2 separate regions of the Homo sapiens genome follow, and region 1 is linked to region 2. The links come from fine-mapping of genetic effects on gene expression. A gene starts in region 2. The other region holds a variant in brackets. All regions are shown on one strand. Distances are from middle to middle.

Evidence for each region.
Region 1: its variant is fine-mapped to the expression of SFMBT2 in whole blood (INTERVAL, PIP above 0.99).

What each region holds. Positions count from the first base shown.
Region 1 is chr10:7,185,015-7,194,482 of GRCh38, forward strand. It overlaps SFMBT2 (Scm like with four mbt domains 2), which reads right to left. Exons shown (of 21, transcript NM_001387889.1): 16 at 3,610-3,719. SNORD129 (small nucleolar RNA, C/D box 129) reads right to left here and starts at 1,770; the gene lies at 1,666-1,770. The variant G/A (reference allele first, on the strand shown) is at 4,408.
Region 2 is chr10:7,406,110-7,415,706 of GRCh38, forward strand. SFMBT2 (Scm like with four mbt domains 2) reads right to left here and starts at 4,925. Exons shown (of 21, transcript NM_001387889.1): 1 at 4,752-4,925. RefSeq lists enhancers at 1,800-2,695, 2,743-2,822, 5,174-6,094, 6,095-7,014 and silencers at 2,243-2,582, 4,799-4,938.

The sequences.
Region 1 (9,468 bases), 220 kb before region 2:
TCAGCCTTAGGACACCCAAACTCCTCAGAAATTTCTTTCTTCCTTCTTGCCTTTAAGTAATGGGAACTCTGCAACACATGGGCATGTATGTTTATCCCAAGGAGACTACTGCTCCTCCAGAATGTCTTAAGCTGGCCTGTTTGAATCAGACACGCCACACCGTGATCCAGTGAATTTAGGTACACACATACACAGAAATGCAGTCTTCCCTTCAAATAGACTGGTTCATGGCTTTGCTTAACGCGAAGTTCACCTCGTGCGTTTTCAGGACAGCAAACTACATACACTTGCGCAAGGTAAACAAAATTAACAAATGAACAAACAAAACCTTTTCCGGTGAAGTCTCTCAGTTAGGGAATCCTTTTTTTACATAAATCACTTTATAGCCAAATGTTACCTGCGACAGTTCATAAGACAAATGCTTGCGTAAAAGGACAAAAATTAAAGTCAAATAAGTAAAAGCACACACAAAATTAACCACTGCTTATGAAAAAAAAGAAACCACAACATTTCCACAGAGCTGAGCATGACGCACCTAACAGTGAAGATCTGACTTTATCTCCTTCCCTCTGATAAGTGACAGTGAGCTCTAACTCACGTGAAATCCTACCAGGATATTTCCTCTTTAAATATTCTGAATAACTATAACACAGGACTAGAAGAATTATTAAGCTTCTGCCTGGCTTTTATAAAGATGATCACAAAAGCCATTCAAAGAAGAGTTAAGACAGTCTTTTTATTTTCCCTCAAGAAGATTCTGTAACATGCTGAAAAACATATTTAAATGTCTCTAGATGCAGAGAGGTGGAGGGCTTTTTTTTTCCTTACCCCTCTAAGATATAGCCTAATTCCTCCTCCTGTAATTCAAAACAATGCAGGTAAATTGAGCATATTTAAATTCATTGGCAAGAAAGAAATTTTCTCTTCCAGAACAGAAATGAACTACATGAGAAGCCATTTTTTTTCCCTGGCATAAAAGCTAGCAAATTTTTGCTTTTCAATACATGTTGAAGGTAATAATGATAGACTCCTCACAAGTTCAAATATTGCAATAATTTCTTTCTATAAAAGGTACGGTTGTTGGATAAATAGGGGAAAAATCACCCAGAGACAATTGTAGGTAACAGTGTAAGTTTTCGTTATATTTACAAGTCAAAACCTCTACAAAGACACCTTCATCCTCTCAAGTAAATGGGTCTTTACTCTTAGGAGGTGGAAAAAACAACCAGAAATCCTAGATGCCAAATGAGAGCAATCACACTGCCCTAGGGATAATCTCACATCCTCTCTTCCTGAAAACAGTCTTTATAATTGTGTACAACAGCTCCCATAATCAACCAAGAGGACTGAATGTCATATGTATATATGACATATATATACATACATATACACATACATACATACTATATATACACACACACACACACACACACACACACACACACATATATATATATATAAAAATATTTTATTTGTTGTAGAGACAGGGTCTTACTATGTTGTCCAGGCTGGTCTTGAATTCCTGGACTCAAGCGATTTGCTGCTTCAGCTTCCCAAAGTGCAGGGATTACAGTCATGAGCCACCACGCCTGGCCTGGACCAAATGTCTTGAATGTGAGTCTCTCCTCTTGTACGTTAATTTATTCATGACAGAAAACATGCCTTCCTTTCAGCTAAATGGGAAGATGCCAGCTCTCTCTCCTCCCATTTGCACCAAAGAAAATAGCAAAGTTGTCAAGATCTAAAAAGTTGTCATTTCACATCAGAAGGGAAGAGGTGACTCAACACACAGTATCAGAGCAGGAGAGCTCCCGCTGACTGTAAAGCTGTCATCATTAGCAGCTGCTTTGAGACGCTGCTATGATCTCGCACAGTTGAAACCCAGTTCAGACAGACATTTTCTCATTAGAAGTTGCTGTGTAAGAGTTTGCCATGGAACTTTTTGTCATATTTGATATAATAGGTAATATGCTGCCTTTACAATTCAGTAGAGCTGGGTTTCACCATGTCTGTTTTGATTGTATCAGGCTGGATTTAATAAAAAGCTCTGATCGACTTGGTAACATGAAAACTAGTGCAAACACTTGCAAAATGAACTTCCTCTCACTGTGGAGCGGGAGCGAGTTTCTGGCTTATTTAGAGGCAGGGAAGGTTTTAATGGGAGCTAAGATTTTTGTACTTTTATTATATCTGTGTCCATTAGGTGTACGTGGACTGTATTGAATTTTGCAGAAAAGTTTTAAAATAAGAAGGATTTCTCCATTATAAACACTTGCTTATGTTTTCTGCCCCCACTACTACTACAAACTTATAAGAAAATGTGCCACTACTGCTAATGATCTCTTTAAAGCAGAAAAATATGAAATATTAGAAAAACATGTTTTTCTCTGAGCTATAGGTGAAGCTCACTTAAATATTTCTTGAGAAAGAAGGAAATGATGAAATGTAGCAGCATCGTTAATTGGCCTGCCATTTTCTGCAAATAAACCCTCTTCTTATTTACATATATTCTCTTCCACTTTGGTGATTTGGCAGATTATGATTAGACCATAAATAAGTTTTACTGAATCTAAAACCCCAGAGCTGTTCAAAAATGACACCAGGAATGCTAAGTGGATTGCTGGCAATGAATGTTGAGTGTGGCACAATCTCTAAACATCTTCAGTCACAGTACTAGTATAAGTTAACTATAGAGGAAAATATTACCGATCATACAAATTATTTCATATTTCTCAATTTTCACTATGAATAGGGCAGGTGCCTTCTCTAAAGGAGGCTTAGATATCCTCTAGCCACTGAAAACTGTTTTACTCTTTTAAAAAAACATCATTTCTCAAATGTTACATCTCAATGACCATTAAGAAGTCAACTAGTAAAACCTATTCTATTTGAAACCCATAGATGAATATTAAAAGTCCTCTCAAGCACTCTAAACAATTATTCAACATAAAATTATCTTAGAAACGGATCTTTTTCTATGTGCCTAAACAACCAAGTTCAAGTACATTGATACGGCTCCTGCTCTCAATTTCAGAGGTCAAGAAACCTAAAGAAAGCAAAAATGTCACCTTTCCAATTAGCCTATTTCCAAATAAAAGAAAGTTACTTGACTCCACGCCAACCCAGATTTTGCTGCCATTTACTTAACCCAGACCAAACATGCACGGGTTCCTTTTATCTTTGAGAACTGTCAACTGCCAGAAAAGAGAGCATTTGCATTTAGCATAGTCTATATAATATCAAAAATGAAGAGCTGTTTATGAACATAGTATAATAATGATGAGGGATATCCTCTTTACAATTTTCCCCCTTTTGCTCAAATAACCTATTGGTCCTGAAACATACCAAGTTTTTATGATGCTGAATGTTTAGCATAATAAAATATTAGTTAAGGAAATCTCTACTTCACCTTAGGAATCCTAAGGCTTAAGGCAACGCTGTATGGCAAAAATGCCAAGAAATTTACGTGTCGCCCATAGAACTGCAGAACGAACGTCCTTCAGTTTGTTCCATTTCTCAGGGCTGTGTCACAAAGAGAAGTGGCAAGGTTCAAAGTAGCATGGGGAAGTATTACAAAAACCCTTGCTTTCCAGAATTGAAAACACTTACTTGGCCTTCAGCGTCTCTTCCTGGAAATTCCAGTGGGGATCTTCTACCAGCTGTAATTCTCTTAATACCCTTCCAGGCTTGTAGGCTGCGTTGATTATCATGCTAAGAACCTTTTGGGGAAAAAAATAAGCAGACTGAGCTGCAATTGCATTCATTCCTACTAACACAAGGATGCTTTGAAAACCACACCACTGACATTTAGGAACAGCTCGCCACTACACCCACATGAAGTGAAGAAACGTGATTAAGTCTGATAGAACACTTGCCAGGCTAACACTGAGTTGTTTCACCATCCATGGACAAAAAGCGTGGTAAAATACAATCTCTCTGGCTAGAAAAGTGTGAACCACTCTCTAGAGGGGGTGGCAGACTCCCATTAACTCTTCTAGTTGCAGAAAAGCTGAACCATTTTCACCAAAGAGCAATTTATTGTACTTCAACAGGATTACTCTTCAGTTGGATAGGCTACTGAGAATTTCATTCTATTTTTACAGATTTCATAAGGAACTAATGAAACGGAGACAATCTACTCATGCCAACACTTCTGGAGAGGCTTCACATGCTTGCAAGGAGGGTAACAAATTGTGTGAAACTCTCCTCTTGCAGGCTCAATTCATGGACATTTAATACTAGGGCAACCCTCTGAAATGTGAATATTTTAAAAGAGAGTCTGGAATATCCAGCGCCATCCAGTATCATATTTCCCCCATCCACCCCTCACTCCCAAGTCCAAGAAAACAAGCATGTGTCTACCATGGGGCTCAGAAAGAGCAGGCATTTCTAAGAGTTCCAGCTGCT[G/A]ACCCTGGGGAGATACGATGTTCCTGTTAACCTCAATGAGTTTCTCTAATGAAAGGGACAAGGACCTCAGACCCCTAAGGTGCTCACCTTTCAAAAAGCAAATCATCATTAATGATTAACATTGATGAGTTCTGGCACATTCCTGGGCTGCTGCTGTTTGGATAAAGACCTTACAGAACGTGAGAGTGCAAAGCAGAGGCCTATGGTGTGGAGTTTCATGAAATGATCCTCTGTGAAGCTCCACTGAGTGACAGTAGCAGGAACAAGACGGGGGAGCACGCAGTGCCCATGCCTCCTGCAGGCCGTCCGGGTGCGGAAGTTGGAAGGAGCACGCCAGGCATGGAGCTCACATTTTGGATTTCAGAGCAAAATACCGTTGGGAGAGCAAGAGATACACCTGAGTGAGATGGGAGTCTGGCACTAGTGCCTAAACACGCACTATCTTTTAATGGAGACTATTACAAAATAAATGGAAGGAGATGGGAGAATGTGGATGGAATTTGCTTGTCACAATTTTCACGGGTCTGTTGTGTTCTGGAACGTAACCAGCTTGGTTTGCACCCTGATTTATTTGAAAACAACAAAGCTTTCTCAAGTTGTAACTAAGGATTCACTCTTAAAATACTTTACACTACGCGGTCAGCCCGGCGACGGCCTTTTCTCTGCCTGGGTAACATCTTGCTATGTTCCAAGGGCCTCAAAGCCACCCACCAAGAGAATGTGGCTTGCCAAGGTGCTAAAAAGCCATGACAAGGCGGTACCGGCAGTTTTGTTGCGTTTGTGTTTTCTGTATTAGAATAATCATCTGATTTTATTGTTTACTGTCAGTACAATTTACAGAAACTCAGTTTAAAAATAAATCTAATTAGTACTGACTGCAATAACGCACACAGTGTTTATCAACAGACAATAAAATTTCAACAGATTCTTTTCATTGGGTTTCGCTGAGAAAACCCCAGAGCTGCATGTTATTTGCTGCATATCGAGATGCATTTTGTGACTGCGAAAAGAAAATGCCTTCTGGAGTTCAATTCAGCCTGGGAGCAGGCAGCAATTAAATTATGAAAAGCATCGGATATTGAATGTTTTTCCCTTGGCTTTTCTTGATGCCACATCATCCGTCTCCAAATTCAACAAGCTCTCTATAAAACTTTGGAATTGTGAGCTGAATAATTTCTGTGCACATGACAATGTCATGTATTATAGTTACCTAATGAAAATAACTAAGTGGACAGCTGCTATGACTAGCCACAGTTAGACTGAATTATTGTGCTTTGCAAAACACTGGAGTTCAGTTCATTATGTGCTTGATCAGAGAGGGTAGCAGGGAGCCTGCCCCTGCCCCCAAACTAATAGGACCTTAGGTGTCTCATCTTCCTCCACTGATATGGTTTGGCTGTGACCCCACCCAAATCTCACCTTGAATTGTAGCTCCCATAATTCCCATGTGTTGTGGGAGGAACCTTGTGGGAGGTAATTGAATTGTAGGGGTGGTTTCCCCCATAATGTTCTCGTGGTAGTGAATAAGTCTCATGAGATCTGATGGTTTTATAAGGAGTTCCCCTTTTTGCTTGGCTCCCATTCTCTCGTCTGCTGCCATGTAAGACGTGCCTTTTGCCGTCTGCCATGATTGTGAGGCCTCCCCAGCCATGTGGATCTGTGAGTCCCTTAAACCTCTTTTCCTTTATAAATTGCCCAGTCTCAGGTATGTCTTGATCACCAATGTGAAAACGAACTAACACATTCCCCCACCTCATTTCTCAGCTCTTTTACAGTAAAATCCTTAAGAAGAGTCTACACTCAACAGCGCCTTTTCCTCTTCTTCAGTCCTCTCTGGAACCCAATCCAATGGGGCTTTTCTGTGTCCACAATGTCCCTGAAACTGTCTTATCCAGATGCCTGGTGAGAGCACATGGCCGAAACGCTGGGCAGCTCTGGGTCTATTCTCACCCTGCCGGCAGGGGCTTCCCTGTCTTCCACCTCACGCTCTGAGAGCCTCACCTCCCAACAACCGCCAGGGCGATCCTTTCAACAGGTCAGATCAGGCCTTTCCTCTGCTCTGTTCTTCTCTTAGGATTGTTCTTCCTGGGGAAACCCTTCCAGACCATCCCTCCCCATCCGGGTCTTTACTCCAAAGTCCGTATCAGAAAGGTCTCTGCGAGTATCCTCTGTACACAGCACATTCCTCCCTTCATTCTCTGGCCTCTCATGGATAACTTGTCTTATTATTAGTATAGGATTATTCCGTAATTGGCTTATTTGTTCACCATCCACCCCCACTAAGACATAAGCAGCAGGAAATCAGGGACTTCATTCTGTTTGCTGCTGTATCCATGGCAGATACAACCATAACTGGCAAGAGTAGGTGCTCTATAGATATTTTTTGAATTAGTTCAATAATTTCAATATGGGCTCTGAAATTAAATTATTCTGTTCATCTAAAAATTAACAATAAATTCACTCCAAGTATTTGATGCCATATAATCTACATGAATGGAGGCTCAGGAGTTATCATTTGCTATTGCTTTTCATTGCTACAAAATCTTATCCTATGCTATGATAAGAAAGTTCATCAAATTTATCTTGTCTTCTCTATGAGAAAATAATAAAGAAAAGCCTGACATGCAAAAAAAAAAATGTGCACTTTTCCTTTGCCAACCTTCCCTCAGCACCCCAGACCATGTGAGTGTGTTCAAGTTCACACCCACCCGTAAGCCTGGCACATTATTCTTAGTGGGTTAACTAATGTTCAGCATAAATTGAAAACAGCAGCAACAAAAACACAGCACAGTATCTTCAAGAGGCCTGTCTGCATCTGTCTTTGATTCCGAGGACTGACTTCGCTGAGGTCAGCTGGGTAAGACATTCCCTCTGTCCAATATCACATGGAAAAGTCCTCAATACGAGATCGTCATTCCTACTCCCTCAACACCTCCTCCCCTGGGTGTTACCGATAAACTTACGACTGCTTCGAAGAATGAAAGCTCTTCTCCTACCACCAAGTCTATGAACACTGAAGGCTGCTTGGGGCAGCCGACTTTCAGGATTCCGACCAGAAAGCTTTCTAGTTTTTAGGTACATGTTGTTGTGAGTGATAGCCCAGGACAAATGCTCAGAGCTCCACAATGAAGGGGAAATTCAAACAGCACATGACAGACTCCCCAGATGTGAGAACCAGACACCCCAAACAAAAACACGGAGGGAAATCGCTTAATGCATCAGCCACAGGGGCAGAAATCGAAACCGTAAATAACAGCTGAGGCCAAATCCCAAACCGCCAGGTCCCACTGGAAAGATCCCAAACTGCAGGTGACCAGGAGCCAGAGTCACCTGAGCCCTTTGGGGGTCGGAGGTCACATCACTATTTGCAGTGGGGCGTCTCTGACTCAGGGCCGGGGGTCCGGGGCACACCGCATTCTGGTTCAGGGGTGCCGCACTACTTCTTTGATTCTGCTGGTCTACGCCTTCACACCCAGTCTTTGGACCTCAGCTGAGTGCCCTGGTCTCACCAGCATCTCAGCAAACGGGGTGGAGAGTTACACTGGAGCAAAAAAACAAGCCCTGAGAAGCGCCTCATTGCAAAGCATCCTGGGTGCCAGGCTTCCTGGGGCTTTCTCTGAACTCTTAAGCACCAAAAGAAGAAAAAAGAGAGCAGAAAATCAGGCGTTCTATTTCTACCTTTCTATAGAAGGTTACAGCTCATCGATTTCCTTTCTATAAACGTTCCTCTCTTAAGCTCCTGAACCTGGACTGCCAAAAAGCAGCACACAGGACAGGCCAGGTCTGCTGCCGAGCAAACACAAGTGGAGAGCCCCTGCCTGCTCAGCACCCCTGAAGCTCATGCGGAAAACCCACAAAGGGGTGCCCACAGATGGCCCACATGAAAGGCATGTTTCTCTTTTTTTCTGAAAAACAGAAGTTAGATACTGTCACTGACATTTACATACTGATATTTTAAGCCAAATAAATTCTAAGAAAAACCACAAGGCTCCCCAAGTCTCTGAGAGCCACCCTGGGATTTTCTCCAAGGACAATGTCCCCCCACCATGATGTGTGGAGTCCCTGTGAAGGCAGAGGCTCCATCGCCCTACCCAGGTGCGTGTTTTCAGAGTCGTTTCTGCCAGGAGCGCTTGGCTGGTCTGCTCTCACCTTCATCATGGGTCTGTGTCTGCAGCTGAAACAGTCACTCCAGGACCCACGGACAGGAGTAAATAGATTAGATGTTCCGCTCCCCGTTGGCCTCTTGTGCCCAGGCTGGCTCACTGGTTTGCTTTCTCTTTCACACACAGACACTAGCCTGATACACTGTCTATAAAGTGAGGACTACAGGCCTGGTGATTCATGAGATGGTATGTAAGTTACAAGGCAAAAATTTCCTGAACACCTCGTGCAATGCAAAGGAACGCAACAGCCGACAAGACCCTTTTGGTCATAGGAGGCGAGCAATCTCCTGATATGACATAGATCATGGTTTATCTCTCTTTTGGGGACCCTGGTACTCCGGGAGAGGTTGGGGTAGAAGGATTTGGGATAGAAAAAGATGCTCCCAATGGACAATGACCCTACTGAGCATGGACACGTGACTTAGGATAAACAGCATCACCACTGCCTGTGCCTAACAACTCCACCCTCCATGCAACTGGGCATGGGCATCCTGTAAAAGGCCCAGCATGTGAGGGGCGGTCACCAGCTGGGCCTGTGCCTCCACGCCAAGGCCTGCTTCGTTCTGAGTTTGCTTATGGGGTACGTCTGGACCTCAGTGGACCATTGAGTGACTCTGGTTCCAGCTTCTCCCAGGTCCCCTACCTCCCCTCGCTGCACCCCCTCGAATTGAGGCCAGACACGCTCGTGGTCCTGCCAAACCCCACTCAACTCTAACACCCATCAAGTGAGTAGAGCCATGCATTAAAGACCACTTTTGCCAGAAACTTCGTCCTCTCTTATAAAGCGGCCCACTCAGACAGAACCCAGAACTGGACTCTGCAGCCTGCACTGAGCCTTGCCAAAGACCATGTCTGCATCCACACCCCGAGACGTCTATTTCTGGCAGAACAGATCAGG
Region 2 (9,597 bases):
AATTTCCTTCTGACCACTGCACCCATGAACCTCAAAAGTACAGAGTAATAAAATATAAAGAGAGAAATGTCCAACCCTAGTATACTAGAACTGTAGGTCATTCAAATCCCACAGTGAACTATTTTTGTTCAAATTATTTAAAAAAAGAAAAAGAAAAAGAAAACTCTGATAATCTGACAAAAATTTTTAGGCATAAGTGTAGGGCCTGGGGAGAGTAAATTTCCTTTACGGACTTCTTAGATCCCAAAAGTATCCTGTATCAATTACATAGAACCTCATTTTCTTACTGCTCAAAGCAATGCTTCCATCGCTCACTATTTCTTCTCAAATGTGGGAGTCCTTTGGGGGCAGTGGTTAAAAAAAAAAAAAAAAGCCACCTTAGCTAGAGTGGGCAGCAATGGAAAAATGGATAAGTGTTTAGTACTCCCAGGAAAGCTTTATGATGAAAACGAAACAGGGAAGAGTCAGGAACCTTTTCTGGCTTTTTAAAAGTCTTGACTTTTAAGTCAAGAATCGTGAAGCCAGTTATTTATAACAACCAATGTTAAAAAAAATAGTCTATAATGTCTGCAAGAACGCAGGAAGAGGAAAAACTCTGCGATGTATGACTTCCATCATTACTGAAACGCATCTCCAGCAGGACCTGCTGTTTGAGGTTCAGGATGGATGTATCCCAATGGGAAATGGGAAACAGTTCCCACCTCAGCAGGCCTCCACCGGCACTTCTACAGCAACACACATCAGAACAGAGTGGATGACCACTCTCTATTCCAGGATGGGGGCTGCGAGACCCCCGGCTCGGGGCAGTGTTCTGCACCGGCCCAAGAATGGGTCCTGCAAGCAGTAAACTCTTTGGTGGGGACCTAGAGGGTTGGCGGGGGGGGAGGGAAGTGGAGAAGTGCGTGGGTGTCTCCCACTCTCTTGCAGGCAGGCAGCTTGGTCCCAGCAAGAGCAAAGATAAGATCTGAGACGGTATTTATTTATGGAAGGGAGAAAGCAGAGTGTGTGCAAATTTAATGCTTAGTAGGGAAAAAGCAGGAGACCTCCTATCTCCAGGGCGGGCCTAGGGAACAATTCCTGCTGAGCAACAACGCCTCTCCCCTCCCCCACCCCACTTACCCGCTCAACTCCCTCCCCACCCCCAACAGCCTCCCCAGGAAACGAGGCCACATTTAAGCCTGTTTTCTCCTTTTCTCCGACCTGCTGGAACATGGGTTCTTTCCCTTGGTGTAGACACGCTAGTAGGTCTCCCAGTTCCCTTCTCTACGGTGCAAGAGTGGAGGGGGGATGGAGAGTGGTGGGCAGCGGCAACCGAGCCAGATCCAAGAGGGGTCGGCCTCGTCTAAATTGGTTTCCCACCAATGGCCTCGGATCAGCCGCGGCTGTGCTGCGGGAGCCCTCAGGACGCGGCTGGGGTTGGTGCGCGGGGCCCCGGAACCCCAAACCCGGCTCGGTTCGGCAAGGTTCAGGGAGACAAGGTAGAGAAGGCTGGGGTGAGCGAGAAGTCGGGCGGCCGATCGTCAGGGCCACGAGCCTCGCCTTGCCTTCTTGGAATCCCACCCAACTTTAAAGGCCCAAAGATCCTGAAAATTCCGAAAGCGAAACTGCGAGCTGGTCTCCAGAAGTTTGAGAACGGTCTCCCAGGCTTTCCAGCGTCGTCCCGGGATTCTCGGACACCACAAACGCCATCAACCACGAGCACCGGTGTCCGTGGCTATTGCCCCGAATGGTCCCCATCCGCGTCCCCGGGAACTCCCTCGGCTTTTCGCGCATCCAGGTCCCCAGCCCCAGCTACTGGTGCGCCCCGAGCCCCTAGGTGCCAGAGCGGTGGTCGGCCGGGCTCCTGCCCAGTCTCGGCTCCTCCCTCCTCCCCACCAGAAGGAAAAACTTGGGCCCTTCGAGAACCCTGTGGAATGTTCTTTGTAATCAACTGTACATCCGCTTCCACGGCACGGCCTCGTGCAAAATCGCGGGTTTCGGGGCCTTGGAGCAAATTGCGCTTGTCAGCGGCGACGTCAGGAGGACAAGGGGAGGGGTTCGCGGCTGAAACTGCAGCTTCGCAGCACAGAGCCATTTTAGGCTGCTCCCCACCTCGCGGGGCCCATGGGAAAGCCGGCCCCGGGAGGGCGCGCCCAAACGCAGGCTGGAGGAGCCACGGACGCGTCCTGGCCGGCGTGTCGCCATCGTTCAGCCTCGCTGCCCAGGTGGGAGGGGTCACCTGCCGCGGGGTCTCCAAGCCAGTGCCGCTTGCTCCCGGCCCCCACCCACTGACAGCACGGCGTCCGAGTGACCCTGTCTAGCCTCGTTCTGCGCTCCTGCAAACCACGTTGCTGCGCTAACTACAAACCTGGCCAACATGTCTTTGTAACCCTATCATTTAAAAACGCTTCCAGGCACCTGGCCGCTGCCAGATCAGGTTCGCGGGCCCGGAGGAGGTCCTCCCACCTGCCCCCGCCAGCCCCGGGGACCGTGCGCGGCCTCCGTGTGGCCCCCGCCCACGAGGTCCCTCGGGCAGGAACCGCCGCGCGACCTCTGTTCAGCGGCCGCGTCCTGGCCACGGGCGACCCCTGTCGGGAACCCTGTTCCCGGCTAAGCTGCGTTCCCGCATTCCGGTGGCTCTCACCCGAGCTCGCGTTTGCTGGCTTTCCCTCTGGCTCCTCTGCCTGACCCCGATTTTGTCTCCGAACTCCACTCCCAGATCCTCCCCGCCCTGGAACGCCGACCTTTCCCCCGCACTTCGCCGCCCACTCACATCCCCCGGCGACTGCCCGGCCTCCATGCCCGCCAAGACAAGAAGATGCCCCTCTCCGATGCGCCGAGAGGGTTCCTAAGCCGAGCAAGGGACAATTTCTTCCCCAAACGCTGTCCCCATCCCCCACCTTCCCTAGAGCGCGAAACCCAAAAGTAAGGAAGGCAACCCCTCGCCTCGACCCTACGTGCTTGTCTCCCAGAGCCGCGCGCTCCCGCCCTTCTGCCCCACCCCACCACCACCACCACCACTTTGGTCTTCTCCAAGCTTCGGTCCCGGTCCCCCACCTCCCACCCCAGAGCGGCGTGGAGGAAAGCAGGAGCCCACTATTAAGTGCAGCGCGCCCCCTGCACACACGAAATCCGGCTGGCGTCTGCAGCCCGATTGCACCCAATACCCGGGACAGTTAGTCCTTTTAATAAGCACCTCCTCGCCCCACCTACTCGGGGATCTACCCGCGCAGGATCCAGCACACACAAGGCGAGAGCTAGCTCGTCTCCTAGAAAGACAAAATAAATCACTCCCTCTGCCCTCATGTACTTTACACCACGTGTCCGCAGTTTGTCACGTCAAATCATGGCAGGGTCTGGTTCCAAGACGCACACACACATTCGGGGTGGTTCTCTTTGACACACACACCCAAAAAAACTGCGCACACGCAGGCCTGCACACTAATCCACAGGCACACACGACAGTTGCGTTTCGGTGCCCTGGTCCGGGCCAGGGGCACTTCTCCATCCCTTTCCCCCCTAGCAATGGACTTGACACACAGACTCTAACCACGGAAAAAAAAAACCGGACAGCCCATTCCTTCTTTTTTTCCCCACTTAATTCGCTAAAGCGCTTCCTGGGGTAGCCAAAGAGAGTCGAAACTAAGGGGTGGAAACTTCAGCTGGGTTTTTTCCCACCTCAAAACCTTTATTTTCAGTTTTTAAAAGCCACCTTAGCCCGCCATATTGAAACTGGCACGGTTTCTAAAGACTCCTTCCCCGCAGTTGTGGCGCTTCCAAGAAAACACGAGTACGGATCAGGCTCTGGATGAGTGTCCGGCCACCGAGAATCAGCCACTTCCCACCCTCCAGGATCCCCCAGCTCCCTCCAGCCCCTTCCCACCGCCCCTGGTCAAAATCAATAAATACATCTCGCAGTTCCTACAGTTGCATTTTGGCGGATTTCTGCAAAACATACACACACATACACATACCCACGCACGCATATTAAAAAATAAACTCCAGAACCAGCTCAAGTCAGCAATTTTGAAAGGGGGTCGAATAAGAGGAGACAACCGGAAAGCCCCTAAGTGACAGGATATTACTTTAAAGAGAAAATAATGAACAAAAAGACCATCCTCGCTGGAGCACGCTCCAAAACTACTACTGCCAATTTTATTTCAGTTGCTCAGGCAAATGTTTCCAAGGGAGCGATTCCGAATGTCTGCACGATTTTTACCCCCATGCCGGTCTCCGATTCCCCGTCCTCACCATCTTTTTCTCCCACCCAAACCAAAAGAAAGGGGAGACCCCAGCGCGGAGGAGACGCGGGAGCGCGGGGTAGGTAGCAGCGGCGGCTGCGTCGCTAAAATGAGTGCAGAAACGAGGAAGGTGGGCGGCGGGAGGGGACAGGCTGCGCCCGGGGAAGGAGGACACTTTGCAACTCCGGACGGACTCCCGCACGGCTCGGCTTTTCCGAGCCCGGAGACGCAGGCGAAGGGGACCCGGGAAGCAAAAATGACAACCTGGAGCGCACAGAGGAGTTTGAAGCTTCGCTCAAGTGCAGTCGCTTTCTTCTCCTGCCCTTCTCTTTCGCTCCCCTGCACCCTCCCCAGCCTTCCCCCACCCGCCACCTCCAACCCCAGCTCCCTCAGGCTTCCTTCCTTTTTTTTTTTTTCCTTTTTTTTCCTAGGCTGGAAAAAGCCCCTGACCAGCGCACTCAACCTGCGGGCCGAAGGGCTGCTCTCCGGCCAGCCTGGGCGCCGGGGACAGCAGCCGGCGCGGCGTCCTACCTGGTGAAGTTCGTCCTGCCCTCGGCGTGGACCCAGGCCCCGGTCGCCGCCCGGGAGGGCACCGGCCTCGCTCGCTTGCTCGCTCGCCCGCCCTTGCCCGCTCGCTCCCCGCCCGCCGCCTCCCTCGCGCGCCCGCTCCGGTCCTCCGGCTCCCACTACAGCTCATTCCAATATGGCATCCTCTCTGTGCGCATGCTCGGCGCTCTTTTTTTTTTTTTTTTTTTTTTTTTTTTAAGATTTTGTGTGTGTGTGTATGTGTGTGCGTGCGCGTGCAGCGAACTCCTTCAACGACCTTTTCCAGCGCTTGCAAAATTTCTTAAGCCAATTAGCCTGCGGGACGTGATCGGCTCCTTCCCCAGCCAGCTCCGCGCCATTCCCTGCGCCTAAGCAGGCGGGCACCCCCAGGACCCTGGGACCTTCCACGCCCACGCGGCCTCCTCCCCACCGCGCTCCCCTTCCTCCTTTTTGTGAGCTCCCTCCATACATGATCTGCAGAAAGTTCCCATCGCGGGCGTTTCCGCACACCCCTCCGCAAGGACAACTGGGCAAACTCCCGTTTCCCTGGCTGCGGTTCGTGAGCTGGGTTTCCAATGGCTCAGTCGACCGTGTGCACAAACTTGCGCTTTATCCGCCGGGGATCGCTGGGAGCGGAGATAAATTCAATCCCCAGGGCAATCTTGGCCCCGCCCGCCCCACCCCATCCTGTGCTTAAATAGAGCCTTTCTTGAAGCTGCGAACATTTCCAGGCCCCTTGGGCAGGGCTGGAGGGGCCGAGGAGAGCTATTCGAGGGAAAGGTGCCCCGAGGGGCAGGAAATTAAGTTGGGGCTGCCCGGGCGAGCTGCCAGGTAGCCGTGCTCGCCACGGCGTCTCATGGGGCACCTAGCTAGTGGCGGGCCTCATAGGGCGGGAAAAGAATCGTCGCTCACACCCCAGCAAAACGTGGCCCTCGACGGTCCGTTGGAGAGCCCCGGCGGCCGTGAGCCCCGGGCAGGGCTGGACGTCTGCGGAGCCCTCGGGCACTTTGTCCCGGGCGCCTGGGGAGGAACGCGGAGCTCCCAGGGCCTTAGGTGCAACGGCTGCGCAGAGCCCAAACGAAATGTCCCCAGTGCGGAAAAGCCGGTGACGCCCTGGTAGCAAGACCAAGAGCTTCCGAAGAACGCTGCGCCCTTAACTAGGGGGCCTCGCAGAGATGCCTGTGTGGGCCTGCATTGTATATTTCTGCGAAATAGCGAATGGACACGTTTGCTCAGGGTTTTTATGGTTGCCAAAGGGGGTAAAATTACCCAGTCCCCCAAATCTGTGTCCCATGAATCCCTCTCATAGTACCCCTCTCCAGGGGGCCAAGAGGTCCTCCAGGTCCCCGTGGGTTCGCAGCTCCACCCGCCCTTCCTCGCCCTGCATCCCTAAGGAGAGGTGTCCGCTCTGAAGGGCTAGGGGCCAGCCATGGAGTGAGGGGACCGGGGCTGACCACGCGCGGCACAGACAGAGGTCCTCAGGCGGGCCCTCTCCTGGACGGTGGGGCCGGAGCTGATCTAGAAGAAATACGGAGGGACGTGCCGAGAAGCCGCTCTCCTTCGCCGCGACCCTGGAGAGCGCCTCTCCACCCAAAGGATCTGCCGAGCTGAGAGATCCAGGGCGGGCGTCCGCAGCCGTGAGGCCCCCTGCGCCGCCAGTATGGGAAGATCCTGCCTCCTTACACCTTGGAGAACGCTGGGCGACGACTAAAGCGCCTTCCGCCGGCCTGTCACTCCATGTGACACAGGAGCCACGTGAGACCCAGAAGAGTCCAGCGACTCGCCGCGCGGCGCACTTTAAACTCTAGCCTGAGTCTGCGACCCCTCCAGCTCTCCAGTCCCCAGCTGTTGGGGACATCAAGCCGGAGCCCTGGGCTCTCTGCCCTGTGGGTCGCTGAAAGCAGAGACTCCTCAAACCAACCGAACCGGGCGCATTAACCCTCTCGCCTGCACCCCGCTGCCTCCCGGTTGAGCCCCGAGGCGGCTCCAGGTAGAACCTGCTGGACTGACTGCGGCGTCCAGAAATCTGGAGTGTGGGCTCCAGACACTCTCCACGGTTTGGCCCCGGGTCTCAACACCCAAGTCGCCTCTTCTGGCTCCTTCACCACACAGCGGGGCCTGTGGAAAGGGAGGGGCCGAGAGACCCGTCGGCGCACCACTGTCCTCGAGGGGTCCCCACCCTGTGCACTGCTGAAGCGCAGGGCGCGCCGCGGCAGGAATGGCCCCGAGTGCGGATCCCCTGCCCTGAGCCTCCCACTCTTGGCCCGCGCTGCGCCTACCCAGTGGCCCTGGCCCCGCAGGGCGACAGCGGCTGCTCCCTCCCATTTGCGTCCCAGACCGCGCGGCCTCGCTTAGCTCCCGGGAGCCGACAGGCGCTTGCCCTGGTGCCAGCGCAGGGCTTCCCGGGGGCTTGGGGTAGGGGTAGGGGTGCGGGGGGGAAGGGGAGAACGTAATTTCCTTCTGCAGGAGTCGTGGAGACGTGAGCTGCAACCAGCCACCGCGCTCTCTCCAGGCTTGTTTACCAGTTTTAGGTCATCATTGTGCACGAAACATTCTTTCATCCAAATAAAAGCAAATGCAGAAGAACACCTGATCCCAAACAGTGTATGACTGCGTTCATTATCTTACCTGGTTACTCCGAAGGAGTTGAATTTTTTTAATGTTTTGGGTACGTAGACCCCGTATAATTTTGCTCCTGGGTCCACAAAATGGTGATTTTGGGGGAGGGTTACCTATCGTGATTAAGAAATATAATCAGGAAGTCGCAGCACACAAAGGTGGCATTGTTATTGTAAAAAAAAACTCCTTCCCTCCTATTTTTGTGTTGCTTTTTGCACGTGACTTTTTGAAGATTCCTTGATTTTCTTTTCTGCAACCGACCTCCATTCTCTTTTATCCAAGGGCACCAATGAGGCAAATGAAAATTGGTTAGGAGATTCCCTGAGGCAATTCAAGTGGCCCCTTCATCCCACTTCAATACCTTTCCACTTTCATTTTTATTTCAGAACCAGACACTTTAGGGATATATACCCAGATGTAGGTTGCACCCTAAATCAATTAAAGGTAGGAAAAAATTCCACATAGTCAGCAAAGGATAACGCACTGACAAAAATTGTGACTGCTTTTTTAAAGTAAAGAAGGCTTATGCACTCCAGCTCAAACAGGGTCATGAAAATCTCATTATCAACACAAGATTTTTCTCTATACTGTTAATATTTACTAAAAATCTTGGCCAAAATAAGCCTTTGATCACACTAACTATAGATATTATTTCACTCCTAAACTTTGCTTAAGCCATGAATTTCATCACTCTACAGATCAAGTTATCCCTTCACAGGGACTTTGGAATTCTTTAACATAAATGGGGCTAATTGGTTAATTGTAAAATATTTAGATGCTATTCCATTTGTCTAATGATACAGCACAAATTAGAAATATAAAATAACAATTGAAAAGTTTTTGTCTCATTTTCCTTATATTCCTAAGCATTACATCACAAAAACTATTGCAGAGGAGTTGAAAAATTATATGTGTACTATTTATTCTCTTTATATTTAGGACATGTGATTACTTAAATCTTGTTGCATTAGTCGTACCCAAGAAAAATGTTCAATTTGTACATACCTAGTCCATGTTTAAGTTATCACTTCCCACTGGGAAAAGGAAATGAACCAAAGAAAATAGAAGATAAACCATTATGCTTTCTTAATATAGAGACTCCCTAATGAACCATTAGACATACTAGCCTAACAGGAAAGCAGAAGGAGGAGAAAAAGAGGCCAGAACCAAATATTTGAAGAATTTGTACAACCTTCTCTTTACTGGAGCCTTGAAACCAAAACTTGTTTTTTCTTAGGCTACATAAGATAGTATTTTTCCATCAGGATCCTAAGGTCACAAAGAGTAAATCTAAATACACTCTGTCTTTTATTTTTTCACCTTTTTTCCTTATCTTCTATCCCCAATTAAAGCACTTAATGGTTAATGTATTGGGAGTCCAGTGACCTCAGTCACTGCTTCATCGCTAATTATCTGTGTGACCTCTGTAAGTCCAGTGACCTCTCTGAGCCGTTCTTTCCTCTTGGGTAAAATGAGGGGATTGGACTAGGTGTTCTGTGAGGTCCTTTCAGACCTAAACAGTGCTAAGCAATCTACCCCACCTCAAAGCCATAAATTGCTTTATATGGTATTCTGCCAATTTGATATAGCAATCAAATTCTGAGGTCACAGAAGATAAAAAAGAATTAAGTAAAGGAATTTGTAGGGAAAGGGTATTAGGGCCTTCTTTGCCTCACTGCCCTTCAGTGAAGGTACCATTCAGGTCATATTTTTGCCTTCTTTTGATTATTATTGTGTTTTTGCATTTACTGTATGAGTTTTGTGTTGCCCATAAAAGTGTGGGGGCTCTGGTGAGTGTATCTATGACAGTCCTTCTGAGAAAAGCCTGGGGTTATTGAGATGGCTTGTGAAAATAACTAGAGTTCTCAGTGAGTGTAGTGATGTGTATTGGTTCAAAAAATATCACCACCTAAGAGAGCACCTTCTCATACATTTATAGAAATTTCAGAAACACACTATTGCGATTGACTCTTGTATAATTTGAAGGAATTTCAAGCTTCCTTGACAACAAGAGAAAAAAATAATAGGGTACAGGGCATATTTTTAAAAGTACATGAAGGCCGGGCGTGATGGCTCATACCTGTAATCTTAGCACTTTGGGAGGCCAAGGCAGGTGGATTGCCTGAGTTCAGGAGTTCGAGACCAGCCCAGGGAACACAGTGAAACCCCATCTCTACTAAAAATACAAAAAAAAAAAAAATTAGCCAGGTGT